Linked DNA regions of Homo sapiens: region 1 is linked to region 2. Evidence: fine-mapped expression QTL. A gene starts in region 2. The other region holds a variant in brackets. All regions are shown on one strand. Distances are between the middles of the regions.

Region 1 (15,215 bases), 44 kb before region 2:
GCACTCCAGCCTGGGAGTAAGATTCTGTCTCAAAAAAAAAAAAAAAAAAATTCAAGTTACATTAAAATTAAGAATTTCTGCTCACCTAAGGCAAGCTATATAAAATAGAAGATATTTGCCACACAGCAATCAGCAAAAGTTTTGTGTTCAGAATATAGAAAGAACTCTTGAAAATAAAAAAAGAAACAACCTAAGAGAAAAGCAGAAATTGGGGAACAGGCTCTAATTTATATTTATCTTTCATATGGATAATACCTTCATTTAAATATAATACAAAGACTATCTCTGCTTGTAATGAAATAGTAATATACATTTAGTTCAACTTAATTTTTACTGTTTTCAACTACAGAAGTGCTTTTTGTTCCTTAATAATTATATGCTTAACATTATACAAGATTTTTAGACATATATGTTTGTTTCCCTTGTATATAAATTCTCATCTGATGTTTCCACATTTGAGTGCTTCAGTATAGCACCCATTTCTTTTTTTTACCTTACATGGAGTCTTGCTCTGTCTCTCCAGCTGGAGGGCAGTGGCTGATCTCTGCTCACTGCAACTTCCGCCTCCTGGGTTCTAGTGATTTGCCTGCCTCAGCTGTCTGAGTAGTTGGGCTTACAGGCACCTGCCACCAAGCCCAGCTAATTTTTGTATTTTTAGTAGAGAGGGGATTCACCATGTTGGCCAGGGTGGTCTCAAACTCCTGACCTCAAGTGATCCCCCTGCCTCAGCCTCCCAAAGTGCTGAGGTTAGAGACCTGAGCCAGGGTGCCTGACCAGAATATCATTTTTTGATCTAGCATTGCATTTGTGACTATCAAGGTGCCCATGGGTTTGTCTCCATGGGCGCCGCCCTCTTCCTAGGAGAGTAGGTGGGGAGTTTCTGTGCCCCCTCCCCCACCACGGGAAACTTGCCCTCTTGCACACGTGGTGCGGAAGGCGCCATTTTGGCCCAGTTGGTGCTGAGTAAGATGTTCTCGCTTCTCTGCTCAGGGCATGAAGATCTGGGGCAGGTGCAGGACTTGGGGCCCCAGAGAGTGCCACAATCGACTGCCCGTGGGAGTGGGCTGGTGCCTGGGAGCAAGAGCGCGGCCGTCCGGCGCCTGTGTGAGCCGACAGGGCAGCTCCGCCAGGGAACCAGGGGCCCGTCCCTCTGGGGTCATGGGCGGACAGGCACGGGAGCTGAGAGAGGGGACCGGGCCTAGGCCACAGGCCCTCCAAGGAAGCCACAGAGCCAGCTAGTGGCACCCAGGGACTGCGGGAAGCTTCGGCAAGGTAAGCTCTGGCAGGGTAAGCTCGGGACCAACATGGGTTTTAGTGTCTTTTCCTAGTGGTGGGGAATTTCTACAAGGTGGGTAGGACGTGTTAAGGGTGGCCTTAGCAATTTGTAGGCCTAGAGGCCGTCTAGGAGAGGCCTGCAGTTCAGAGTCTCAACAGGGCTTGATGGGGCCTGCCATTTCATTTCGCAATGTGGTTCCTAATGTTTCTTGGGAAACCGGGCGTGTTATGTCTCCATGTCACCCTTTACTTCTTGGATTTCTTGGTGTGCGTGGTTGCCTTTTTCTCTTTTCTTATATTGCAATTTCGGGTCCCACATTTTCTTCCATTCGAATCTGTGCGTCTTCTATGCAAAGCCTGTGGTGGGTCTTGCTCTCGGACTAGTTGAGCAGCATTGCACTCGTGTTGGTTGTGGGAGTTTCATCGTTTCTGTGTGTGTTCAGCATTCTGTTGCGAGTTCCTTATCTTCAGAATGATTGAGAAATGTAGTTTTCAGTTTTAAAGAATATATATTCTTTGGGGAGGTGATTTTATTGCATTTGGCCAGAGAATATGTGACCATTCGGTCACTGAGGACTGGTGTGTACCCCTAGGGACGCAGTATCCACCTGGAGACTGGGTGTCCCCATGGAACCTGATGTCACTCTGGGCCTAGCTGCCCACATGGGTCCTTGGTGTCCACCTGGAGCCTGATGTTCCCCAGGGACCTAGGTATCCATTTGGGTCCTGATGTTCATCTGGGACCTGGTGTTCACCTAGGGCCCGATAGTCACCGGGGGACTGGGTATGTACCTGGGGCCTCATGTCCACCTGTGGTGTGGGTATCCACGTTGGGCCTGTGTGTCAATCTGGTGCCCCATGTCCACCTATGGATTAGATACCCAACTGGGGCCTGCTCTTCATCTTGGACTTGGTGTTTACCTGGAACCTGATGTCCAGATGGGGCATAGATTATCTATGTGGGGACTGGTGTCTAGATGGGGTCTGACAGTCAACTGGGGCCTGGCCTGGTATTTTCCTGAGGTGTGACTGTGAACCTGGGGACTAAAGTCTACCTAGAATCCAGTGTCTACCTTGGGCCTAATGTCCACCGGTGGCCCAATGTAAATCTGGGCACTAAAGTCTACCTAGAATCCAGTGTCTACCTTGGGCCTAATGTCCACCTGTGGCCCAATGTAAATCTGGGGACTAAAGTCTACCTAGAATCCAGTGTGTACCTTGGGCCTAATGTCCACCTGTGGCCCAATGTAAATCTGGGGCCTGGTATTTAGCTAGGGCCTGGGTATTCACCCAGGGCTTGATTTCAGCTGGGCCCTGAAGTTCTCCTAGTGCCTAGTGTCCACCTGAGGCCTTGGTGTCAGTCGGGAACTGGATGTCCACCTGGGGCTTGAGTGTTTCCCGGTGCCTGAGGACTTCCTGGGCCTGGATGTTCACATGGGACCTAGATTGAACCTGAGGCCTGATGTTCATCAGGAGCCCAGGTATCCACCTGGGGAGTGGTGTCCACCCAAGACATTTGGAGTCAAGTGTCCACTTGAGGCCTCATGTCCACCTGGGGCCGGATTGTCCATCAGGGACCTGTTTTTGACCAGGGACCTGGGTATTTACCTGGGGCCTCAGTGCCCACTTGGGGCCTGACATCCACTTGGGTGTTGGTGTCCACCAGGAGCCTAATGTCCACCAGAGTCCTGGGTATCCTCCTGGCACCTGGTGTCTGCCTGGGGCCTGGTGTCCACCTAAAGTGTGGGTATCCACCTAGGACCTGGTGTGCACCTAGGGCCTTTGTCCACCTTGGGCCTGTTGTTCCTCTGGGGCCTTGTGTCCGCCTGGGCCCTGGGTGTGAGCGTGGTACCTGATATCCACCTGTGGCTTCCATAGCCACCTGAGGCCTGGTGGTCATTTGAAACCTGGTGTTCTCCAGGGGCCTGATGTCAACCTGAGGTGTAGATATCCACCTGGGTCCTGGATGTCCAGCTGGGGCCAGATGTCCAGCTCTGGTCTAGGTATACCCCTGGGGCTTGATATTCACCAGGGGTTTAGGCATTTACTTGGCACCTAGTTTCCCTGTGGAGTGTGCCGTCCCATGAGGATTGACATTCAGCTGGGGACTGGGTATCTACCAGGGACCTGGGTATCCACCTCAAGCCTATTGTACTCCTGGAACCTGAGTATTTACCTGGGGTCTGATATGCACCCAGGCCTGTTGCCTACATAGTGTCTTATGTTCCCCTTGAGCCTGAACGTCCGTCTGAGTCCTCGGTATCCTCTGTGGGATGGCTGTCCACCTGTGACATTGTGTCCTGCTGTGGCACGGATGTGAGCCTGGTGCCTGATATACATCTTAAGTCCAGTGTCCACCTGGGGCCTGATGTTGACCTGGGGACTGATGTCCACATGGGAACTGGGCATCCACCTGCGGCCTGATGTCCACTGGGAACTGGATGTTGCCCTGGGGTCAGGGTATCTACCTGGAGCGTGGTGTTCACCAGGGGCCTAGGCATCCACCTGGGGCCTGTAGTCTACCTGGGGCTTCCTGTCCACTGTGGCCCTGGTATTTACCTGGGGCCTGGACATCCACTTGAGGCCTGAAGTTTAAGTGGGGCCTGGTGTTCAACGGGGGCCCATGTGTCAACTTGGGAACAGACATGCACCGAGATGCCTGATATCCATCTGGGGCCTGGTTTCCACCTGGGGCCTAGTATTTACCTACGGCCTGGGCGTCCACCTATGGTGTATTATCTAAGTATCTAAGTAACAACGTTTGAGAGGTTATTAGGCCTATATATGAACATGCTACTAACTAGAAAAAAGTTATGTGCAAAGGAGCTTTGTGATGTACCTTATTATATTGTTGAATGGAACGTAACTTTTCATTAAACAAGTTCCTAACACATTTTATAGAATCTAACAAATGAGATTTCAGAGGCCTATATATAAACATGAAAATTCAGCCCAATAACTAAAAACAAGCCATGTGAGAAGAAGCTTTGTGATGTGCTTTATTATATCACTGAATGTAACCTGTGTTTTTATTAAAGAAGTTCCAAACACACATTTTATCGTTTTATACAACCTAAGGAATGACATTTCAGAGGCTGTTAGGCCCACATGTGAATATACAAATATTCATCCTTAATAACTAAAAACAATCTGTGCATGAAGAAGCTTTGTTATGTGGTATTTCAGATCACTGAATGAATGGAACCTGTGTTTTTATTAAACAAGTTCCAAACACACGTTTTATAAAACCTAAGGAATGACATTCCAGAGGCTATTAGGTCTTATGTGAATATTTGAATATCCATCTCTAATAACTAAAACAGTCTGTGTGCAAAGATGCTTTGTGATGTGGTGTTTCTTTTTTTTTTTTTTGAGACGGAGTCTCACTCTGTCGCCCAGGCTGGAGTGCAGTGGCACGATCTCGGCTCACTGCAAGCTCTGCCTCCTGGGTTCACGCCATTCTCCTGCCTCAGCCTTTGGTGTTTCATATAACTGAAAGAAACCTGTGTTTCTGTTAAACACATACTAGAAACATGTTTTGTAGAATCTAACCAATGACATTTCAGACATTGTTAGGCCTATATATGAACATATGAATATCCAGACCTATTAACTGGAAAAAAGCTATGTGCGAAGAACATTTGTGATGTGCTTTATTATATCACTGAATGAAATGTGAGTTTCCATTAAACAAGTTGTAAAAACACGTTTTGTAGAACCTATTTAATGAGATTTCAGAGGCAATCAGGCCTATATATAAACATATGAAAATCCAGCCTTAATAACTAAAAACAAGCTATGTGAGCAGAAGCTTTGTGATTTGCTGTTTTATATCAATGAATGGAACCTGTGTTTTTATTAAACAACTTCCAAGCAGACGTTCTTTAGAACCCAGGGAATGACATTTCAGAGGCTATTAGGTCTATATATGAATATACGAATATCCATCCCTAATAACTAGAAACAATCTGTGAAGAAGCTTTGTGATGTGCTGTCTCACATCACTGAATGGAACCTGTGTTTTTATTAAACTAGTTCCAAACACACATTTTTTAGAACCTAAGGAATGACATTCCATAGGCTATTAGGCCTATGTATGAATATACAACTATCTATCACTAATAACAAAAAACAATCTATGTGCGAAGAAGCTTTAGGATGCACTGTTTTATATCACTGAATGGAACAAGCATTTCTGTTAAACAAGTTCCAAAAGGACGTATTGTAGAATCTAAGTAATGACATTGCAGAGATTATTAGGCCTCTATATGAACCTACTAATATCCAGCCCTAATAACTAGAAACAGCTATGTGCAAAGAACATTTGTGATGTGCTTTATTATATCGCTGAATGGGACGTGAGTTTTCATTAAACAAGTTCCAAACACACATTTTGTGGAATCTAATTAATGAGATTTCAGAAGCTATTAGGCCTATATATAAACTATTAGGCCTATATATAAAAATACGGAGCCTTAATAACTAAAAGCAAGCTATGTGTGAAGAAGCTTTGAGCTTTGGGATGTACTATTTCATATGAATGAGAAGAACCAGTGTTTTTGTTAAACAAGTTACAAGCACTCATTTTTTAGAACCTAAGCAATGACATTTCAGAGGATATTATCCTATATATGAATATACGAGTATCCATCCCTAATAACTAAAAACAGCTTTGTGATGTGCTGTTTTATATCACTGAATGGAACCTGTGTTTTTATGAAACAAGTTTCAAACATGTTTTGTAGAATCTACAAAAATGACATTTCAGAGGTTATTGGGTTTATATATGAATATACACATATCCACTACTAATAACTAGAAACAAGCTATGTGTGAAGAAGCTTTCTGATGTGCTTTATTATATCACTGAATGCAACTGGAATCTCCATTATACAATTTCCAAACATATGTTTTGGAGAATCTAAGAAAGGAGATTTCAGGCCGGGCATGGTGGCTCACGCCTATAATCCCAGAACTTTGGGAGGCCAAAGCGGGCAGATCACCTGAGGTCGGGAGTTCGAGAGCAGCCTGGCTAACATGGAAAAACCCCGGCTCTACTAAAAATACAAAATTAGCCGGGCATGGTGGCGCATGCCTGTAATCCCAACTACTTGGGAGGCTGAGGCAGGAGAATCACTTGAACCCGGGAGGCGGAGGTTGCAGCGAGCCGAGATCACGCCACTGCCCTCCAGCCTGGGCAACAAGTGGGAAACTCTGTCTCAAAAAAAAAAAAAAGGAAATGAGATTTCAGAGACTATTGTACCTACATAGATTTTCAGCCCTAATAATGAAAAACAAGCTATGTGAGGAGAAACTTTCTGATGTGCTGTTTTATATAAATGAATGGAACCTGTGTTTCCATGAAGCAAGTTCCAAACACATGTTTTGTAGAATCTCAGATATGACATTTCAGGGGCTATCAGGCCTATATATCAACATATGAACGTCCAGTACTAATAACGAAAACCAAGCTATGTACAAAGAAGCTTTGTGATGTGCTGTTTTAAATCACTGAATGGAACCTGAGTTTCCATTAAACAAGTCCAAACACAGGTTTTGTAGAATCTAAACAATTACATTTCTGAGGTTATTAGGCCTATATATGAACATGTGACTATCCAGCTCAGTTAATTATCATGAAGATATGGGTGAAGGAGCTTTGGGATGTGCTTTATTATATCACTGAATGGAACCTGTTGTTTCATTGTATCCATCGGGGGCCTGGGCGTGAGCCTGGTGCTTGGTGTACACCTCAAGTCGAGTGTCTACCTGGGGCCTGATGTCCATCTGGACACTGGTGTCCACTTGGGGCCTGACGTCCACCTCGAGCTGGATGGTCCTCTGGGGTCAGGGTGTCCACCTGGGGCCTCCTGTTCACCTTGGCCCTGGTATTTACCTGGGGACTAGACATCCACTTGGGGCCTATGTGTCCACCTGGGACCTGACATACAGATGCCCGATGTCCATCTGGGGCCTGGTTTCCACCCGGGACCTGAATGTACCTGGGACCTTGTGTCCACCTGGGGCCTGGTATTAACCTGGGCATCCACCAGGGGCCTGGTGTCCACCTGGGGCCTATGTGCCAAACTGGGACCTGATGTTTATGCAGGGACTGGAGTCCACTTGACTAGGGCCTGGCATCAACCTGGTGTCTGATGTCCAGTGTCCACCTAGAGTCCAGTGTCGTTTGGGGCCTGATGTCGTGCTGGGGCCTTGGTGTCCACTAAGGCCTTATGTCCATGGTGGTGGGGAAGAGGTGGGAATCCTTGTCCCCATGGGCCCTGCCCTCTTCCTGGGGAGAGCGGGCAGGGAGTTTCTGTGCCCCCACCCCTCAACATCCAGGAATTCACCCTTCTGCACATGTGGTGGGGAAGGCGCCATTTTTGCCCACTTGGTGCCCAGTTAAGTTGCCCCGACTGCTCTGCTCAGGGTGTGAAGATCTCAGGTGGGTGCTGGACTTGGGGCCCCGAAGCTCCACCCCGCCTGACTCCCTGCGGGAGTGGGCTCGTGCCTATGAGCTAGAGCATGGCCGCCGGGGGTCTGTGTGACAAGGCAGAGAATATTAGTATATACAAAATTTTTATACAATTGGAATGATACTGGTAGTAAAATTAAAATGCAATACAATAAGATTACCTTGCAGGGGCATGGTATTTTAGATTTGTTAAAGTGATTTCATAGGGATGATCTTATTTCAGTCTCATAACAGCCTAGTGATTTGGTAGGGAATTGTGAATTTCATTATACAGAGAAGGAAACTGGTGTCCAGAAGAGTCCAGCAACAGCCCATACTTCGTTTAAATCCCGGTGGCTCCCAGCTCTTACTTATTCCCCACGACTGAGTGCCTGACACAAGTATAGGACTTCAGTGAGCCCAGAAAATCTGAGACAGGTCTCAGTTAATTTATAAAGTTTATTTTGTCAAGGTTGAGGACGCACCCCTTACACAGCCTCAGGAAGTCCTGATGACATTTGCCCAAGGTGGTCAGGGCACAGCTTGGTTTTATACATTCAGGGAGACATGAGACATCAGTTAGTATATGTAAGAAGTACAGGCCAGGTGCAGTGGCCCACGCCTGTAATCCCAGCACTTTGGGAAGCCAAGGCGGGCAGATCACCTGAGGTCAGGAGTTCAAGACCAGCCTGGCCAACATGGTGAAACCCCGTCTCTACGAAAATACAAAATTTAGCCCGGCATGATGGTGGGTGCCTGTAATCCCAGCTACTCGGGAGGCTGAGATGGAAGAATTGCTTGAACTCGGGAGGTGGAGGTTGCAGTGAGCTGAGATGATGCCATTGCACTCCAGCCTGGGTGACAGAGTGAGACTCCGTCTCAAAAAAAAAAAAAAAAAAGAAGTACATTGGTTTGGTCTGGAAAGGGGGGACAACTTGAAGCAAAAGCAAGAAGACTGGAAGTGAGTCAGACAGGTGATACACAAGTGGTTGCATTCTTCTGAGTTTCTGATTAGCCTTTCCAACGGAGGCAAATCAGATATGCATCTATCTCAGAGAGCAGAGGAGTGACTTTGAATAGAATGGGAGGCAGGTTTGCCCTAAGCAGTTCCTGGGTTGAGTTTTCCTTAGTGATTTTGGGGGCCTAAGATATTTTCCTTTCACCCCCTCAAACCTCATTTCCTTCTTCCTCCTTCTCTTTCTTTTCAGAAGAGGAACGCTGCTTCTACCCTACCATTTGGGGAGTAGCACCACCTGATGGAAGAGAACATTCTTCGGTCTTCTCCTCACCATGGCTTGAGAATCGCATAATCTCGCTGTGCCCAACTTTCCTCATCCCTAAACAGGGCCAGCTTGCCTTATCCATGAACTGTATCACCGCAACACCAAACTGAGCTGTGTTCTAACAGCATTTAGTCAACTGCAGACGGTTTTTGCAAATATTAGATGCTACTACTTTTGCTGATCTAATATTTTTTAACACATGAAGTGACATGAAATGTGTTCATGATACTCTCTGCCCACTGATTCATGACCTCCTCTCATGCTTCAGGGGTCAAAACAATCAGTGCTGTCCAGCAGCTGTTAGGGACAGGGGCTCCCCTCCTCCCCAGCTTGGAACCTCAAGCCACTGCCCACAGCTAGCAAGCAGATGTGCCACGCAGTGACCTCTTGGCCTTCCCAGCAAAAATATCCTATTTTGGCATATGGGCTTGACCCACAGTAGGAAAACTTGGCACTACTGTACATATGATCTCATTTAAGGAGTAGGAAGATAAACATGCCAGCTGCACTTACTCACTGATGGGAAAAGTTCTTTGAGTTACACAGTTTCAAACAGGAACAGCCAGGAGACTGGGGACTTAAATCATAACTATTGTATAAATAATGGGAGCTGTTCCCTGAGC[T/C]AAACGCCGCCCTTTGGCAGAGGTAGAGCCTTTTGGCAGAGGGAGGCAGGAGAAGAGTGTGGGAAGTGAAGAAGTTCCTGAGGTGACAAAGTGAATTGCACCGGAGAGAAGGGGGGATAAAGCTGCTTCCCAGAAACTAGGACAGCAACACCTGGCTGGTCCCCGAGGACGAGGACGGGACAAGAAAGGCCTCTCCTGCAGGAATGAGGTTAAAATACAATCAGGAACCACACGAATACTCTATCTCCTCTGATATGCTGTCTTGTCTGTTTGTTTAAGAGTGTCTTTGGGACTAGTAAAGCCCCTCTTCCCTGAAGGATTCCTTCGCTTTTCATAGTTTTCAGTGCTGCCGTGTTCACAGACACGCCTCTGCAGCTGCACCTGGCAGAACAGCTTGAGTTTCCCTAGAAACGCTCTTTGAGAAAGGAATAGAGGCAGAATTGCCCTTGGTGATCTCCTAAGAAATGGGGTCCATGTTCATCTGAAGATGGGAATGAAAAATTCATCCTTTTGGTTCAACCAAATTCATACATGGCCAAATCCTCTGGAATATGGTGAAAGCTGACCCTTGAAAGCCGCTATCATTACAAAAACAAGGAGCCAAATGCAGACAGACTTCAGGCCCACAGAACGCCTCCATGGGAATTATCAGCGAAGTAATCATCTCACTCTCCTAACTTCAGGAGAAAATATGAGTCAGCAAAGACTAAATTGGTTTAAAAATAGAATATTTGCAAAATGGAAAAGTCGGATGAATTCACGCTATAAATCAATAGACCTTTAAAGGTAAGGCACAGCAAGCATTTTGGATGACATTAATGAAAGACCTGTGTTGGCATAGTGTGCTGCAGGAAAGGTCGGGGGTCACCACAGCCAGTACCAGACCTTAAATATAATCCTGAAATTAAATATGTACGTAAAATAGTTTCTAGAGCACAAAAGGTGAAGGTAAAGGAGAGTGCTACTGATCTTTTGTGTGTGTGTAATAAAGATTTCGATGTAAAATGTACAACAGAAAAAATACTGTATTTCAATAATAAGAAAAATATATAAATTATTCCCCCAGTGCTCCAAATCCCTTCTGTGTCATACAAATCTTTCTCATCTACTTTGCTGAAAGTTGCTCAAGAATATCTTATTCACCTTTGACTCTCCTACTTAGGTTTATGGATACAGAAAGTATTCAATAAAGAGTGAATAATTTAGTCTCTTTAGCCAATTTACAGATAATAAAACTACACATATTTTGTATGTAGTTTATCTGGCCTCAGATTCTAGCTTGTCAACTGGCAGAGCTAATTGTGGAGGCAGGAGACTAGAAGGCTGGCACCGAAATAGAATCTCCCAGAGTCTTAGGTTTGCCTTCAAAAGCTCAATTATTCTCAAAGATAAAATTTTACATAAAAATAATATCACATATGAGTGAATTGTATGGTATGTGAATATCTCAAAGCTGCTAAATGAAATTTTAAAAATAGATTATATGACTAAAATATATTTGATGTTTAAGTGTCATTTCAGAATACATAATATCTTAATTGATATTATCTAATAATATTGACTTTTTGAAGGAAAAATAATATTCAATTATTTCTTTAAAAACTAATTCTTTGGGGAGGATTGACCATGTACAACCATGGCAGAGGCTCACTAAACTGTGATTCAGTCGTTGAGGTAGGGATTTTTTTTTTTTTTTTTTTTTTTTTTTTTTTTTTTGAGACGGAGTCTCGCTCTGTCACCCGGGCTGGAGTGCAGTGGTGCGATATCGGCTCACTGCAAGCTCCGCCTCCCGGGTTCACGCCATTCTCCTGCCTCAGCCTCCTGAGTAACTGGGACTACAGGCGCCCGCCACCATGCCCGGCTAATTTTTTTGTATTTTTAGTAGAGACGGGGTTTCACCGTGTTAGCCAGGATGGTCTCGATCTCCTGACCTCGTGATCTGCCCACCTGGCCCTCCCAAAGTGCTGGGATTACAGGCGTGAGCCACCGTGCCAGGCCCGAGGTAGGGATTTTTAACCTATCATGAATCCCATTTAAGAAGGAGGAAGCTGAGGCTGCAAGAGGTTAAGTGTCAGAACTAGTATGATGTGGAGCCAGGTTCCAAAACCCAGTATATCTTCCTCCAAATACATTAAAATCTTGGGTACTTTTTATTACTATTCTTAGCAGGGACTCTCAGGAATATGACAGTAAAATGAACATAGATCTGTTCTTTGTAATCAGGATTGTCTCTGGATGGTCACTTAGCATAAACATTTAATATAATATTGGCTGGGCTCACGCCTGTAATCCCAGCACTTTGGGAGGCTGAAGTGGGCAGATCACTGGAGATCAGGAGTTCAGGACCAGCCTGGGCAACATGGTGAAACTCCGTCTCTACTAAAAATACAAAAATTAGCCGGACGTGGTAGCAGTCACTTGTAATCCCAGCCACTCGAGAGGCTGAGGCAGGAGAATCACTGGAACCCGGGAAGTGGAGGTTGCAGTGAGCCGAGATTGCACCACTGGCCTCCAGCCTGGGTGACAGAGTTAGACAACATCTCAAAAAAAAAAAATTAATAAATAAAACTAAAGGAATATTTGGTGTAATTGACAAAAAACTCATAAAGATTGGTTGTAATTTATGTTTGAAGCTTAAAGACCTAACAAACTAATATCCTTAAGCTCTAAGTAACTATCATTGATCAAGTAAAGCTCTGTTTATATCATATTGCCAAATTTAGCAAATAAAAATTATAAATATAAACATATACACCTTAAGTTTGAGTTTCAGATAAACCACGAATTATTTTTTAGTATGTTTATGTCTTATGCAATATTTTTTGTATTTAATCTTGTAATCCTATCAGGGTTTTTAAATGGTGAAATTTATCATTGCATTAAAAACAAGGAAAAAGGCTAAAGTAGTACTATGTGAAAATGTGCACAAATTCTAGATACGTATAGAATTCAAATACTCCTTTCTAGCACTTAGTACTTTAATGAGGTAAGGATTTAAATGATCACCAATAATTATATTAGGATGGCTTTGATTTATTTTTAAATGTCATTTCAGAACACATTAAAAGGCTATGTGGACTGTAGAGCCCTTATTTTCTGCCCCAGATGACAAACTCATGGTGTAATCTCGAGCAGAATATTTAAAACAAATGTTTGTCTGGATGTAAGGTTATTATAATTGGACCACAGATCTCTCCTGACAAAACCCAGAACCAACGTGTCACCTTGGGTTTCACATCGTCGTCAATTTGAAGTGCCTTGAGGGGGATACCATGGTAGGAACAGAGCTCAGAGTTCAGTCTGAGAACTCAGTGATGCTCCCCAAGGGAATCGAGTCTTACCATCTAGTCAGTCTCTCCTTTTACTAATAAGAAATACTTGGGGTTCTACTCTCTCTTAAGGTTGCATTTTGTAATCTGCAAAATGGGGCTGCCTGTTTCATAAGGCTATTGTAAGAATCAATGAGATAAAAGCATTTAATTTGATCAAATAATTGTTGTAAACTGAGGCTACCCCAAAGAGAGCTATCTGAATCATCTAGTCAGAACCTGAAGGAAATTGAAAGATTATTCTATGTCTCTTGCCTTAGAGATGGCGTTAAAAGGCTTTCTAATTAGCACAAAGAGAAGTCAAAGCAGGGCTGGAGCCACACCCTTTGGTCCCCAATCCAGTGCTTTTCCCAACTTCGCTATGTTCCCCCTTAGGTAGGGGTGAAACGGCCTCTCCTAGACGTTAAAATCTTACACAATATCCTGAGTGTGAGTTAAGGAAAGGAAAGACGGCAGGAGAAAGACACATAAAGTAGAAATTAAAATAGTAACAGGATTGTCATTGCAAAGAGCAAATTGCCACCCAGGCTGTCCAAGATCAGAATAGCAATGGGAATTGTCCTGACTTCCAATTTGGCATCCTCTGCATCAATCACATTTAGTAGTCCTCATGTAGGCTCATGGTGGGAGTGGTCAATATCATCATCACTGCTGCTGTCTTAAAGGATTTAGGAAGAGTTGTACAAAGAGAATCGGCCTTCCTTCTTCCAAAGAATACTCCTATGGCAACATGGAAACATCAGCGTTCCTTTTATAGACAAGAGGGCTTAGAACAGTGTTTCGTGCATAGCAAGAACTGAATATGTATTTTGTACTGATCAGGACTCATTCAGATGCACTCAGCCAAAAGTTCATTTCAAAATTTATTCCTTTTGGGAAATGGTGCATGAACCACTTTAGCATGCTTCACCATGGTGGTTAGGTAGATGGTGGACTGAGTGAGAAAACGACAAAACTCTTACTAAATAGTGACACTGTGTGAAGAACCCTGCTAGGCGCCTTCATACAAATCACCTGGTTTCAACCCTGTGACCATTAAGTGAATAATTGTGTCATCTCTGACACAGGAGGGAACTGAGGCTCACAGAAGTTATGTGGATTGTCAGGGGCTGCAGAGTAAGGATGTGGTAGACCTGAGATTGGAACCCGGGGCTTCTGGGGGCAAGTCCTGCGTAAAGCAATGGTTTTGAGATGCTTCAGATGTAAGCAAACCTTGGTCTTCAAGTTCTATAATTGGACTTTTCTTCCTATTATGTGAAGAATAGAAAACACTTAATCGTGGAAAAGTTCTTATAAACCAAGTAAGATTAAAGGAAAATAGGGTATGTAGAAAATCTGGCTTGCTTTGTTTGAAAGGGAGACTGAAGGAGTCTTTAAGATCCAAGGAGAAAAGAAAGAAAAAATTGCCCAAACAGCCCAGGAAGGAGAAGAAAGGATGAAAGGGACGGCTAAGGAGGATAGAGGAAAGGAAACTGGGGATCGTTGTCACAGCCCAAAGTGAGGCTTCAGGGCAAGATTAGGGAAGGCAGTCTGGATGGTCATAAGTAAAACTACTGGGACATCATGACCCTGCATTAACGTAGAATGAGTCTGGTTATCAATGGGCAGCTTAAGAAAAACAGAATGGCAAATCTACTTGTCATGTGACAAATAAAATGGGATTGTCAATTATTTATTATTATTATTATTATTTTCATCCATGACCTGTGAATCAATTACTTTTATCTGCACTGATGGAGAAATGAAGAGTTCCCCTTCAAAATAACTTCAGAGCAGCTTGCGCTTGGGAAGCACGTGGATTCAACCTGGCTTCTGCCTTTTACTTAAGCGGAATGGGCTTTATCCATCTTCAGGGGCAGAGAGAATTAAGATTAAAGCCAAAACAATTGATATGTTTTAATAGAAACAAATCCAGTCCTCTTCTCTGAGGTATTGACCTCGTTTTAAGGAAGAAAAAAAGACAGCGAGAGAGAGGTTTTGTTGCTAAAGCTGGAATACTCTTTCAAAGAATCTAATGATCGCTTATTAGAATAAAATTAAATATGTGAAATATTTTTTAACTAAAAGCAGGATTTTCAAATATTATATAAGATAACCATAACATATGGCATTGTTTGAAGGCATGCTGTTTAAAGTGAGAGCAATTCTGCAAATTAACCGTAAGCTACTTTGAGAATCCCATCTTATTGTTCAATAAGACTCTGGACCCCACGCTGTGTTACTGCAACAGCTCCATTGTGGCGGTGCCTGG
Region 2 (15,215 bases):
GCACATGGCTTTGGGGGAGTTGAGAATCAGTCTCAATTCTTAGTGGGATATCACTCACCGAAAAGCAGTCAGTGTGATATAAATAAAAAGAACATGAGATTTGGAGATAGCCAGACAAATGTGGGTTCACATCTGGGCTCCAGCACTGACCTACGGTTGTCTCCTTAATCTCTCTGAACCACACTTTGCTTGTCACAAAATGAAGGTAAAAATGCTAACTTCACATGGTCGTTTAGACTGTATAAAGCTCCTGGCTTGGAAAATTAGCCAGTTTCAGGAGATATTTGCTCTCCTCCCGGTCTTAGGTAAAAATAGGGTTGGTCCAACATCTTGCCCTGTGGTGTGTGGACGTGCTAAAGACTGCACTCAGGCCCTCCCTTGCTGGCCAGGCCATGTTTTGTGTTTATGAAACTAATTGTTTCACTGACTTGCACTTGTTGCTACTGACTCTTACACTGCATATTCAGGTCATTGCGTATTCCAAAAAAAGAATTCAGTCCTCTCCTTGAGCTAGCTAAGTGAAATGAAAGATAAGGCATTACTTCCTCTGAAAAACAAAATTTGGAAATTGAAAAACAAAACAAAGAAAACATTTTAAAAATTCTAATTAGAAGAGGGAATGGAAACTCATTTTCCAATTTTGGAAACCACTTCGTCATTTTGACACTAAATGTAGAAATGAACTCAACTTTGGAGCATGTAGGACCTCAGATCTCTACCACTGCAGATACTAGTAGCTGCGTTGTGCCCAGATAGCAATATAGGTAATGATTACAATCACAGGCTTTAGACCCAGAGACTCCAAGGAGGCTTATTAGCTGTAGGACCCTGGAATGTTTATACTTCGATTTACTCACTTGTAAGACAGAAATTACAATAATGCCACCTCATCTAATTGCAGTTGGAATGAAAAGAACTGATACTTAGAGAAACCTTAGCCCATAGTAAACTCTCAAAAAAAAAATCTGCTGAATTATCATTACTAATGAGATTTTGTTCAGTTAAATTTCTCTTTTAGAGCACATTTTTTTGATTTATGTAAGCATTACTGTAGCCATCCTAGGCAAAGCTACAAGAAAAACAAGGAACTGAAAATAGAAGGTTACTGGTCTCCCCTTTTAAACATTCCAGTTAAGTACCTTAAAATGCTATCTTAACATTTTTTTTAAACTTTATTCTTTCCACCTTTTCTTCTCTTTCCACTTTTCCTTCCCCTCTCTTAACTTCAAAAGCCTAACTGGATGCTAAGGATACCCGTGAAGGTTTGACAAAAGAACAGGATACTGACATGACATTAAATCTCTCCACCCAAACACTAATCAAATACAAAGTCCAAGATGGTGACTTTATCATGAAGGAACTGGCAGACACCAACTTGGTCAATTGAAAAATGTTGGCTCCTGCTCCTGAAAAGAACACAGCATAACTTCTGAGGTAGTCCTGCCAAGATGTGTGGACTGAGTCTAGACGTGAGATAACATCAGAGTGTTATCTCTGTATGTGTCATTTTACACTCTGAAGGGCCTGTACCTTTTAAGACTCTCGAGAACACTGTTATGAGCTGAATCATGTCCCCCTCAAAAATTTATATGTTGAAGTTTAACTCTCAGTCCTCAAAATATGACTATAATTCAGAGATAGTCTCTTTAAAGGGGCAATTAAGTTAAAATTAAAATCGAGCCATTGATGTGGGTCCTTATCTGATATAACTGGTGATTTTCTAAGACGAGGAGATGAGGAAACAGACACACGCAGAGGGGAGATCACAGGAAGACACATGGAGAAGATGGCCATTTGCAAGCCAAGGAGAGAGGCCTCAGAAGAAACCAAACCTGCTGACATCTAGAACTTGGATTTCTGGTCTTCAGAACTGTGAGACAATACATTTCTGTTCTTTAAGTCACCCAGGCTGTGGTGCTTTGCTATGGCAGCCAGAACAAACCAATACAAACATGAAAGAGGGAAAGACTGAGAAACTGTTCCAAATGGAAGGAAACTGATGAGATGTGACGGCTCAGTGCAACACATGATTCTGATCTTGGACCAAAAAGGAAAAAAAGGAAATACATTTTTGGGACAGTCAGTGAAATGTGAATGGGGTCTGAGGCCCAGATGATGCAGAATTGACGTCAACGCCCTGGTTGGGAGGGCTGTGTGGTAGTTACATAGGAGAGTGCCCTCGCTTTAGGGAGATCCACACAATAGTATTTAGGGATGATGGGCATCGTAGCCAAAAATGAATATGTCTGTAAATAAAGACAAAAGCTGATGAAGCAAATGTGGTAAAATACTAACAACTGGGGAATATGGGTGTTCTTTGTACTCTTTGTGAAGCTTTTCTGTGAACCTGAAACCGCTTTTTTTTTTTTTTTAAGGTTGAAAATGATGTCTTGGGATCCCTTGTGTACTGTTGGTAGGAATGCAAAAGTGTACAGCCACTAGGGAAAACAGTGTGGTGGTTCCTCAAAAAAATAAACATAGAATTACCATAGAGTCTTCTGGATGTATACCCAGAAGAAATGAAAGCAGACACTCCAACTAATATTGAAAATGTTTGCTTTCACACTCATGTTCACTGCAGCATTATTCACAACAGCCAAAAGGTGGAGGCAGCCCGAGTGTCCATCGATGGATGAATGGATACACAAATGCGCTATAAACAGACAATGGAATATTATTCTGCCTTAAAAAGAAAGGAACTTCTGACACGTGCTACAACATGAGTGAAACTTGAAGATGGTAAGTTAAATGAGCCAGACAGAAAAGGACGAATACTGTAGGATCCCACTTATATGAGGTACCTAAAATAGTCTAATTCATAGAGACAAAGTACAAACCATTTTTAACGTAAGATGGCTTGACTTATGGTTTTTTTACTTTACAGTGGTGAAAAATCAGTATGCATTCAGTAGCAACTGTACTTTGAGTACCCATATGATATGGTTTGAATTCTCACCTTGAATTGTAATAATCCCCACATGTCAAGGGTGGAGATAACTGAGTCATGGGGGCAGTTTCCACCATACTGTTCTCATGATAGTGAATAAGTCTCATGATATCTGATGGTTTTATAAATGGGAGTTTGCCTGCACAAGCTCTGTCTTGCCTGCCTGCCTTGCCTGCCTGCCGCCATGTAAGATGTGACTTTGCTCCTCCTTTGCCTTCTGCCATGATTGTGAGGCCTCCTCAGCCATGTGGAACTGTGAGTCAATTAAACCTCTTTCCTTTATAAATTACCCAATCTCCCATATGTCTGTATCAGCAGTGTGAGAACACACTAATACACCATAGAACCATTCTGAGCATTTACTGAGCACTTACTATTAGAGCTTCTCACTTTTAGTACAGTATTTAATACATTACGTGGGATATTTTGTACTTTATTGGAAAATAAGCCTTATGTTAGGTGATTTTGCCCAACTGTAGGCTACTGTGAGTGTTCTGAGCACGTTTAAGGTAGGCTGGGCTAAGCTGTGATGTTCAGTAGGTTAGGGGCATGGAATGCATTGTCAACTTTCTGTGGGTTTATCTGGACCTAACCCCATCATAAGTCAAGGAGCATCTGTAGAATGGTGGTTTTTCAGGAGCTAGGGGAAGGGGAATGGGAAAATGTTGTTTAATGACTGTGGAGTTTCAGTTTTACAAGATGAAAAGTGTTCTGGAGTGTGGCTGCACAATGGTGTGGATGTTCTTAACACTGCTGAAGAGGACACATACAAATGATTAAGATGGTAAATGTTTTTATGTGTATTTTTACCCCAAATACTTTTCAAAAAATATCTTGGCTATTATTTATCTCCTTATATATATGTCTTTTTTTGTTTGCTAGCATATAAATCTCTCGGAGGCAGAAAACATGTCTGAAATCTACAGCATGTAGATTTCATACAGGGCACAGTGGTTGACCAGTAATGAGTTCCTGCAGGAGGGGACCCTTCCAGTGAATGTAGACCTGGAAAATGAGATTGTCCTATTTATTCCTCTGAATATTCCCCAGCATCTATCACAGTGCTCTTTATAAAGTAAGTGCTCGGTAAACGTTCATTCGTGGTGATGCTAAGGACCGGAAGGGTCTTTAACCTTTTCTCTCCCTCCTAGCTCAGCCCTCACGGAACCCTAAAAGCTGGCTAAGGGGCCATTCTCCTCGCCACCTGGGCCTGCGTCTGCCGAATCGCTTCCTAAGGACTTTGACTAGAAACCAAAGGTCCCATTTTTCATCTGCCATTTATTTATCATTGCATAACTTAGGTAAGTCCCTCCGCCTTCACTGTCAGTTCTTCACTCATTGTTTTGCATCCAAGGAGTCTGGAAATAAGCGGGAACACCCTGCACGTGAGAGGGGCCCTGAAATTCACGAGGGGCTGGGGCTTTGCGTTTATTCCTCCAGTTCCGCCTGCAGCAACCCTGACGATCGAGCAGGGCCCGCGGGGGAGCGAGCGGAAGCGGGCAGCGTGCGCTGCTGTCCCGCTACCCAGCCCGCTAGGCTGCGCAGCTGCGTCTGCGGGCGGGGAGCCGGGGCGGCCGTGGGCTTCCTCCGGGCGCGGGCTGACGGCTGCCGCCTGTGGGCGCCCCAGCCCTGCAGCCGAGCGGGAGGGGCGGACCAGCGGGTGTCGGGAGCAGGCTGCAGCGGCCAGGCCTCTGCGGCTTCTCGGAGTACTGGGTCCACTGGAGAGCGAAGAGCCGCGGCCGCCAGGATTCCCAGCAGCGGCCGCGTGTTGAGAGCCTAGAAGTGGCCCCGAAGCCGTGCCTTTCCCGATAGCCAAGCAGAAGTAGGACTTGAAGCACCGAGGCTGGGATGCCCATGCTGGTGACGCCTTGGGGCTCGCAGTTATACTTGGTGACCGGTCTACACGGCGATTCGGTGCTTTCCGGAGTAGCAGATTCATCTATCTTTAGACCCACCTTCGTCCTTCGGCGGTTTAGCACGGCCTGCGCTTTCCTGCGAGCCCTGCTGTCACCCGAACAGCCTGATGACTTCACGCTCAACCACTGGAGGGCACAACCACATCATTTTTAAAAAATAGATTCCTCCACTTAAAGGACATGGTTTTGGGGGAAAGAACATTTAAAAAATGTAAAAAGATATATATCTATATCTATATATCTATCTCAGATTGTTCTGATATAAACTCAGGTGGGATTCTTCAAAACAGGAGGCTGTTCCAGTCTCTTCATTTTGCAGCTGAGAAAACGAAGGCCTTGGAGCTTGAGAACTCCAGTTGCCCAAGGCACACAGGTGGTGGGTAAGGAAGCTGATCATGTCTCCAAAGAATCCTTCCATGACCCAGGAGGATCCGGTGGGAGAGCAGGGCCGTCCACAGCTCAGCTAGGACACAAGAAGGCCCGGGGTGGCAGGAGCCCCACTGTGTGCTGCGGAGGATGGCAGAGGAAGTCAGCATTGTCCCGAAACTGCAGGATCATGTGATGTGATGGGAAAAAATTATGAGTACAAGACACAGGAAGAGCAGGTCACGGAAACACATGGTGCCCAGAAGGGCTTAATTAGTAGCAGCTGTGCGGGGTGATGCACAGAGTGCCCCAAGGGTGTCCTGAGTGAGGGTGGATGTCCCCTGCCCTCTGGCTTCGTGAAGGCTTCGTGAAGCCTGCCGGGTCACCCTTGTTTTCATGGATAGCTTCTTTAGGACACTCTCTCCACCAGTAATTGACAAAGTCTGCTTCTGTTGAGTGTCTGATAAAGGATTGAGTTTACATGATTGTTAAGATAGGATCATGAAAGAAGACAGAAGACGGATGTGAGTGGCCCTCAGAAAAAAAGCATCAAAGGAAACTGAGGAGTCTGTGTTCCGAGTTATAACATCAGTCCTGTGTGTAAGTGCTGAGTTTCAGCTCTGCCCAAGGCTAGGGGTTGCCTAGTCGGCTTCAACTGTAAGCTCCTAAGGGACAGTGCTGCCCCTTGAGATGACTGGGCAGCCATCAGCTTCATGCTAGAGGCTTTAAAGCAAACCCAAGATGGAGTCTCAGTACTGATTATTTGGGCCAGTGCCTTTCTTAACATTTCACGGATATATTCCTTTATTTTATTTGTTGTATTTTAGTACAGTTTTGCTCTATTCAGTCATGGTCATTCTTAGTTGCTGTTGTCTTTGTAAACTTATTTAATATCTTTTAAATATTAAAAGATTAAATAAATTATTTTCTAATAAATTCTTTTAATATTAAAATATTAATTTTTGATAAGAACCTTGTTTACTCTCAAGATTAATGTAGTAAATAAAGAAGACTAAAAACTTCAGAGACTGAAAGCTGCTGAGAATGTGTAAGAGAAACCTGGTTGTCAAACGCAATCCTGATCTTTTATCAGGCATCTGTATCAATGTGGATGATCTAACCGTGGTTAACTTCATGAAGAAGGAAGATATTTGATTTTCATCTGTTTAAAGAAACAATCTGTTTCTTCTAAAAGTATATACTCTAAAACACAAACCACTTGGCTGGGAAATAAAAGATGGTTATGCTTTATCATTTATATAAGCCTGGCCTTTCTCCAAAATGATTTTGATATAGCTTACAACAAAAAACGTGTTAGGCTTAATAAAAGAAGAATGGAAATGGAAACTAAGGATCAACAGAAAAGAGTATCACAAATACGGTAATACTAGCATATGGTAATATTATTTCTGTATTTGAGTGTAAAACGTGGCTGTGAGCTTCCTGGAGGCCAAGGCAAAAATAGAGACAAGAGCAACGTGCATAATATCATTAGCAGACAGAAAGATCATGTGACTTTTTAATTTTTTTCCCGGAAACTGAATCTAAAAAGAATCGCTCTATATAATGACTCATATATATGGTTTTAAGTGAAAAAATGATGAACACTGTCCTCCATGAGAGTTTTGGCACAAATTGAAGGAGGTAAGAACTGATATTGAAGCACAACTCAGTGAAGTTAATCCTGTCAGGCTAGGTTCACACAAGAAAACTTCTGACAAAATCCTAGAATTCCGGCAAATGCAGGCATGGAATGAGAGATTCCTATTCCATCTGCCTCGTTGTGCCTGGGGCCAGGCCTGAGTGTTGAAGACAGCTTGTTCCAATGTAAGATCAAATGAGATTGTTCATAACAGGAGTCTGCAGGAATATGGCACCTCTGATTTGAAATGATGGATGATTTTCATCAGCCGTGTATCTGCTTCCTTGGCAGCACCCCAAGTGCAGACCCCAGGCTGTTTCAGTGTGTCATCTGGCAGGCCCAAACAGAGGATGTCTCAATTGTGCATGTGTAACACAGCTTTAATTCATAATTTCATTTCTGGATGGAATTTTGAGCAGATGGGCATTGCTGTCCTTTTTAATGGTAAAAAATCAATGAAAGACACCGTGGTTTTGAAATTAATGAGCACTTGAAAAATACCAGCTTTGTTTGGCTTTGCGTTTTCTTTTTTCCTCTCCTCCTAAGTTGTTTGCAGCAAAATATTCAATTGAAAACTCAACATGTCCACTGCCTCCCAAAAAAAAAAAAAAATTCTGTGGAAAGTCTCCACTAACAGGAAGAGAGAAGTTCTTCACAGTTTGGTTTTATTTTTCAATGATAGTCATTGCCTCATTTTTAAAGCATTTATAATAAATTAAGCAAGTAACACTTGTGTACCAGTTTCTAATCAGTTTCTAATGTGCCTGGAACTTGCTGGGCTACAAAGAAAAGGATCAACTATTTTTTTTCCTGCACCCAAAGATATTGCAATCTTATCGGAGAAGGGAAACTGAGGCATGTGTTACAGTTAGAGGACTAGGAAGCACTAATCTGTGTCAGACTCCAAAGTGCAAATTCAAAGGAAAGACCATTGTTGGAGGGAGTGATCCGGAAGAATTCCTAGCCCTTACCTGTCTCAGTCATGCTTCTTGCCAAAGAAAAAGAGAAATCTCCAAGTATCTTAATGCTTTCAGCGCTTCTCCAATCTGACAAATATTTATTCAGATTCGAACTGACTGCCCAAGCTTCACTGCAGCTCCTCGTTTCCTGTTAGATCTTTTTAAAAATCTTTGCTTAAAACATTGAAGGCTGAACGATGAGCAAGAAAATCTTGCCTGTGAATAAGACACTGGGAACTGCACAGAATCAACATCAGCTCACAAGCTCATCATCTCACGCACGGATTCCTGAGCACATTCTCGCATTCTTGCTCTTAATCCTCCCTTGGCGACCTTCTACTCAGACATCATCTTTTATGCAGAGAAGCAGGCACGTTTCTCATCATTAATTCTGTTCTCAGCCAGGTGTGTAGCCACAGAGCATACAGACCACAGGATGATGTGAGTACCCCAGGATGTAAATTTGTGCGGAGTAATTACAGCTCAGGCTTCTTACACAGCTTTGGCCACATCAGGACATGAAGCTGTCTTGCAAATTGCGGGTGTGTCTAAGCTCTTAAGCACATGTGAACTTTAACGCACGTGCATTCCCTACTCACATACACAATACAAGCATGCCACACACTCACAATCCAATTGGCTAACTATGGTTATTAGCAGGAAAGAACAATTAATGGTCCTTGTGGTTACAGTTTTGTTTGAATTTTCGCCTCATCAAAAATGTAACAACCAACTAAAGCAGGCTTTCCTCCTTTTTTCCTAGTGAAAGCATATTGACTTTCCTGACTTCTTATGACCACATTTGAGGAAAGGAGTAAGCACTGGAATCACCAACACAGCATGCTTACGGAGGGTGGTCACCAGCTTCATCAGCCTCCCAATTCCACGGAGCCCCTTGAAAATCCAGGAGCGCAGACTGGCAACAGTAGAGATTTAATAGGTAAGACCTTGGGTTCAATGGACAGATCTCCTACAGTTCCTGATATCAGCCCCTATCAGAAATTATATTTTACTTTGTGTATTTCACATATTTCAAATAGAAGGGGTCAAGACTAATAGTGACCAGTCTTCATCCATTTGATAAACCTTTACTAAACACAACTGCAGCTTTGTTCTAGGCAGCATGAATGGAATGATTTACAAACTGTTGCTGCTCTTTGGGCAGTCACTGTTTTATAGGGGAACTCGAGAAGCAGTCAGGAAGGAAGGTCTCGGAGGAGATGGCCCTGAAACTGAATCAGACTTTAAAAGATAAGTTGGTCAACAGGGTTGGAGGGAGGGAGGGAAAAGAAGGTTTTGAAAGATAGATCTTTCAGAAAAAGCAAATAACTTGGGCACAGACATGGGCACAAAAAGGAAAAGAAAAGCCAGGGCATTCAGAGAATTGCAGAACATTTTGCATGACTGAGTATAGGAAGCAAGAGAGGTCTTTTGAGAAATACGACTGGAGAGGTGATGAGGGGCCAGATCTTGTGTTACACAAAGAACCTCTTATGCCACACAAAGGAATTTGGATTTTTTTTTTCCTTTTAGGCATAAGGAAGCCATTGAAGGGTTTTAAACAGGAACAATGTAATCAGATTTACTCTTTGGAAATAAGATCTCCTGGTTAGTTAATGAACTCGTATTTCTTTTTTTCTATGTTAACCATTGTTTTATTGTTTGGTCTTTAGACTCTATTATTGATTGAAATGCCAAAGTGATGGGAGTCAAGCGGCTTTGCCACTTAACCTTCCAAAGTTTGTTTCATTTGCTTTTAAAATAGTTATTATATTACGTGCTTTGCCTTATTAGTTTTGTGTACAATTAAAGCGAGATAAAGGCAGAGAAACTGGCTTGTAGTGCTATTGCTATGGACACCATTAGTTGATGTCAGAACAATTACAGATGAATCAATATTTACTATTGGACCAATTACAGACAAAACCAGAAAAGATTAGATCTAGCACAAACTTTATAAACTATTGAGCCTTTCATTTTATTTTGCATTTAAAAATCCTTACATCCGAGATTCTGAATTCTTTTATCAGGGGTGTGGCCTGTGCATTGAGAGTTTTTAAAGCTCTCCAGGTGATTTTAATATGCAATTAGATTTGAGAACCATGATTTTAGACTTAAGGGGCTTTAGAAGTAAATGTCTTTAAATTCTGTGATAATACATCATTCATAGGCTATTCAGGCTGTACTAAAACATAGAGAAAAAACAAAGACAATTATTGAGTTCATTTTATGAAGCAAGAACAATCTTAATAACAAAAGATAAAAACCTTTAAAAAGACGCGAAGCTATGATCTTTTTATGAATATAGGTGTAAAATCACAAAATATTATAAAAATATTTTAACCACATATTAAAAGAGTAGGCTAAATAGAATTTACTTTAGGAATTGAAGAATGGTTTAATATTGGGAAATTTATTATTGTAATGCCTGGGCAACAGAGCGAGACTCCGTCTCCAAAAAAAAAAAGAAAAAAGAAAATGCGAAGTTTAGTCTCAAGCTAAGACTAAATATTTGCAAATCATGTGTCTGAAAAAGGACTTGCATCAGAATAGAGAACTCTTATCACTCCATTAAAAAAAGACAATTCAAAATGTTGAGCAAAAGATATGAACAGATAATTCACCAAAGAATATATTATGATAGCAGATAAGCATATGAAAAGTTGCTCAACATTATCAGTGCTTAAAGAAATGCGAACTAAAACCATACTGAGATACTATGACACACATACTAGAATGTCTCTAATCAGAAAAACTGAAAATATTGAATTCTGGTAAAGATTTAGAGGAACTGGAATCCTTATACATTGCTGGTGAGAATGTAGAAAAGATACAGTCGCTTTGGAAAACAGTTTGTCAGTGACTCAGTAAGTTAAATACATCCACTTCTAAATATCTACACAGAGAAATGAAAATGTATGCTTAGACAAAAAACATTCAGCATTATTATTTTCCATAACCAAAACCTGGCTATTCTAGTTCAGGATGACATACTGAACATATGTGTTTACCTCGTGTCCCTCCTGAGACCCCAATGAAATGACAACGTAGAAATACAAAGAGGAATAAACTCATGCAACAAAAAAAGCATGGAAGGGTATCAGTAGACAAGAAATTTCAACACATTTCCAGAGGACAAAAAGCTGATGTACAAGCTTGGCGCAGTGGCTCACGCCTATAATCCCAGCACTTTGGGAGGCCAAGGTGGGTTGATCGCCTGAGGTTAGGAGTTCGAGACCAGCCTGACCAATGTGGTAAAACCCCATCTCTACTAAAAATACAAAAATTAGCCGGGCGTGATGGGGTGTGCCTGTAGTCCCAGCTACTCGGGGGGCCGAGGCAGGAGAATTGCTTGAACCCAGGAGGCGGAGGTTGCAGTGAGTCGAGATCGCGCCACTGTACTCCGGCCTGGATGACAGAGCAATACTCTGTCTCAAAAATAAAATAAAATAAAATAAAATAAAATAAAATAAAATAAGAAAGCTAATGTACAGGCAAGCGAAGGATGCTGAAGCCCAGAATATAATCGTTGTTGGAGGCTCTGTAAGAAGGAGCCAGCCTCCTCTATTGGAGACCTGAAAGAGAAGGAGCGAAGCAAAGGGAATGATGGAATATGTACACCACTATGTCACAGCCCTGCCAGTCACCCCTCCCTTTCCCACCCTTCCAGAGCATCTGGAAGGTCAACATTGTCACTGTTACAAAAGATAAAGAATGAAGGAATTTCACACATTTACCTAGGAAGATGTAAATCTTCTGTTGTAGATAATTTATTACAGAGTACTCCGTCCACATCCAGGTGCCCCACACAAGTGCTTCGCAAAGCATCTGTGGTGAAGGACCAGCTTTTGTGTTAAAATTTCAAATCCATTGCAGAAGGTTACTTTTTAAAATATAGTAGAAATAAATTACTAGAAAAATAAAATTTAAAAAGCAAAGGCACACAAAATACAAGCCCAAATGTTTTATTACCAGACTCAAGAGACAAAAGATTATATTTCTTTTTTTTTTTTTTGAGATGGAGTCTCGTTCTGTCACCCAGGCTGGAGCGCAGTGGCACCATCTCAGCTCACTGCAGGCTCTGCCTCCCAGATTCATGCCATTCTCCTGCCTCAGCCTCCTGAATAGCTGGGACTACAGGCGCCCTCCACCAAGCCCGGCTAATTTTTTGTATTTTTAGTAGAGACAGGGTTTCACCGTGTTAGCCAGGATGGTCTCAATCTCCTGACCTCGTGATCTGCCCGCCTCAGCCTCCCAAAGTGCTGGGATTACAGGCATGAGCCACCGTGCCCGGCCCCTAGACAAAATATTATATTTCAATCAATGTTATCAGAACAAATTTAAAATAGAAAAAAAGACAAGAATTACAAAAATGGTACATACTTATTGAAAGTGTGTGTATAGGCAATTAAAGTAGCCAATCATTTTTACATTAAAATATTTGTGTCATTCTACCATTGAAACTAAACAAAAGGTTATGAAAGGAATTGTAATTTCCCATATAGAAAACCTATAAGTTTTGAATAAACAGCATGTATAAAAATATCAAAAGCTTTTATTGTAAAAAATGAGCCTGATTCTTGTTTTTTAATTAATTTATGTTGGATTGTTGACAATGCTATTCACAGAAGATAATGCATGTCTAAACTGTTTCTACGTATTTTTTCCCTTGTTTTTTAAGATACAATTTACGTATCATAAAATTATCATTTTAAAGTGTACAAACAATTGGCAGGGCACAGTGGCTCTCGCCTGTAATCCTAGCACTTTGGGAGGCCGAGGCGGGTGGATCACTTGAAGTCAGAAGTTTGAGACCAGGCTGACCAACATGGTGAAACTCCGTCTCTACTAAAAATACAGAATTAGCTGGGCAGGTGGTGCATGCCTGTAATCTCAGCTATTTGGGAGGCTGAGGCAGGAGAATCGCTTGAACCCGGGAGGTGGAGGTTGCAGTGACCTGAGATTGTGCCACTGCATTTCAGCCTGAGCAACACGAGAGAACCTCCATCTCAAAAAAAAAAAAAATTAAAGTGCACAATTCAGTGGTTCTCAGTGTATCATATTCACAATTTGTGCAACCAAAAGCACTATCTAATTCCAGGATGTTTTCATCACCCCAAATGGAGATCTCATACTCTTGGGCAGCCATTGCCCAGTCTCCCGGCCATCAGCCCTGAACACTTCCTAATCTATTCTGTTTCTTTATAGTTTTGCCCATTCTGAACATTTCATATAAACGGAATAAAAGGCTACAACATGTAGCCTTTTTTGTCTGACGTCTTTTACTCAGCATAGTGTTTTCAAGGTTCATCCACATTGTTGTATGTGTCAGTAATTCATTCCTTTTTGTGGCTGAATAGTATTTCTTTGTGTGGATAGACCACAATTTATTTATTCATTCATCTGTTAGTGGACAATTGAGTTGTTTCCACTTTTTGGCTATTATGAATAATGCTACTGTGAACATTAAAATGTAAGCTTTTGTGTGAACATACATTTTCATTTTCTTGGCTATATCCCTAGGAATTGAATTGCTGGGTTATATATGAGAACTGTATGTTTAACTTTTTTAGGAACCAGCTGTTTTCCACAGTGGTTGTACCATTTTATATACCCACCAGCAATTTATTAGAGTTCCAATTTTTCCACATCCTTGCCAATATTATTTCCCTTTTAAAAATTATTATTATAGTCATTCTAGTGTGTCTGAAATGATATCTCATTGTAGTTTTGATTTGCATTTCTCTGATGATCAATGATGTTGAGCACCTTTTCAAATACCTGGTTGCCATTTGTATGCCTTCTTTGGAGAAATGTCTGTTCGAATCATTTGCTCACTTTTTTAATGGAGTTTTTTACTGTTGAGTTGTCAGAGAGCTTCATTCATATATTCTAGATACTAGATGCTTATGAGATACATGGTTTGCAGGTATTTTATTTCATTCTGTGGGTTTTCTTTTCTTTAGGACAGTCTCTTGATAGTGTCCTTTAATGCACTGTGATGCTGTGATGCTGATGAAATCCAATTTGTCTATTTTTGTCTTTGTTTACTTAGGCATTTGGGATCATATCTAGGAAACTAATGCCTAAATGATGAAGATTTACACACATTTTCATATAAGAGTCTTATACTTTGGGCTCTTTTTAAATTTAGTGGTTTTTTAAAATGTGTGTTTTGTTGTTTCTTTCAAGATACAGGGTCTTGCTCTGTTGCCCAGGCTGGAGTATAGCAGTGCAATTACAGCTCACGGCAACCTCAAACTCCTCGGCTCAAATGATTTTCCCACCTCAGCCTCCAGAGTAGCAGGCACTACACTATCCATTTTTAAAATATTTTAACATGGTGTGAGCTAGGGGTCCAAATTTATTCTTTTACCTTTGGATATTCAGTTGCTCCACCCATTTGTAGAAAAGATTATTTTCTCTCATTGAATGATCTTCACACCCCTGTCAAAAGTCAATTAGCTGGCCAGGTGCGGTGGCTCATGCCTGTAATCCTAGCACTTTGGGAAGCTGAGGCGGGCAGATCCTGAGGTCCAGAGTTTGAGACTAGCCTGGCCAACATGGTGAAACTGTGTATCTACTAAAAATACAAAAAAAAATTAGCTGGGCCTGATGGTGGGCACCTGTAATCCCAGCTACTTGGCAGTCTGAAGCGGAAGACTTGCTTGAACCTAGGAGGTGGAGATTGCAGTAAGCCGAGATCACACGATTACACTCCAGCCTCAGTGACAAGAGTGAAACTCCGTCTGAAAACAAAAAACAAACAAAAGAGTCAATTGGCTATACATGCATGGGTTTATTTCTGAACTCACAATTCTATTTCATTGTTCTACATGTTTATCCTTATTTCAGTACTACTCTGTCTTCATTACTGTAGTTTTGTAGCAAGTTTAAAAATAGGGAAGTGTAAATTCACCAACTTTATTCTTTATTCAGTTTATTTTGCCTACTCTATATCTCTGGCATTTCTGTATGAATTTTAGTATCTGCCTGTCAATTTCTGCAAAAAAAAAAAGGAATCAACAGAGATTTTGATAGTGATTTGCATTGCAACTGTAAATCAGTTTGGTGAGTATTCCCATCTTAACAATATTAAGTATTTTGATCCATGAACATGGATGTCTTTACATTTATTTAGGTCTTCTGTAATTTAACAATATTTTGTAGTTTTCAATTAACAAGTCTTATACTTCTTTTGTTAAAATTATACCTAAGTATTTTATTCCTTTTGATTTTATTATAAATAGAATTATTTTCTCAGTTTCATTTTTGGGCAGTTCATTGCTAATGCGTAATACAATTGATTTGTAAATTTTGGTATTATATCCTACATATTTGCTGAACTCACTCATTAGCTGTAATATGGATTCTTTAGGTTTTCT

Which allele goes with the higher level. Alleles are on the strand shown, and positions count from the first base shown. SD is a standard deviation of normalised expression in the study named.
In carriers of allele C in region 1, the expression in aorta of the gene that starts at base 7,592 in region 2 tends to be lower than with T alone (small effect, 0.31 SD a copy in GTEx).

What was found. PIP is the estimated chance that this variant, and not a neighbour inherited with it, causes the effect. A credible set is the group of variants that fine-mapping cannot tell apart.
Region 1: its variant is the best candidate, but not a certain one, in a credible set for the expression of LINC00327 in aorta (GTEx, PIP 0.76).

Annotation. Positions count from the first base shown.
Region 1 is chr13:23,418,030-23,433,244 of GRCh38, forward strand. All of the region lies in intron 1 of SACS (sacsin molecular chaperone), which reads right to left. It overlaps SACS-AS1 (SACS antisense RNA 1), which reads left to right and starts at 942. Exons shown (of 2, transcript NR_103450.1): 1 at 942-1,272; 2 at 8,938-10,840. RefSeq lists an enhancer at 14,925-15,215. The variant T/C (reference allele first, on the strand shown) is at 9,636.
Region 2 is chr13:23,461,921-23,477,135 of GRCh38, forward strand. It overlaps LINC00327 (long intergenic non-protein coding RNA 327), which reads left to right and starts at 7,592. Exons shown (of 3, transcript NR_038995.1): 1 at 7,592-8,271; 2 at 8,594-8,770. RefSeq lists a silencer at 4,373-4,652 and an enhancer at 4,763-4,922.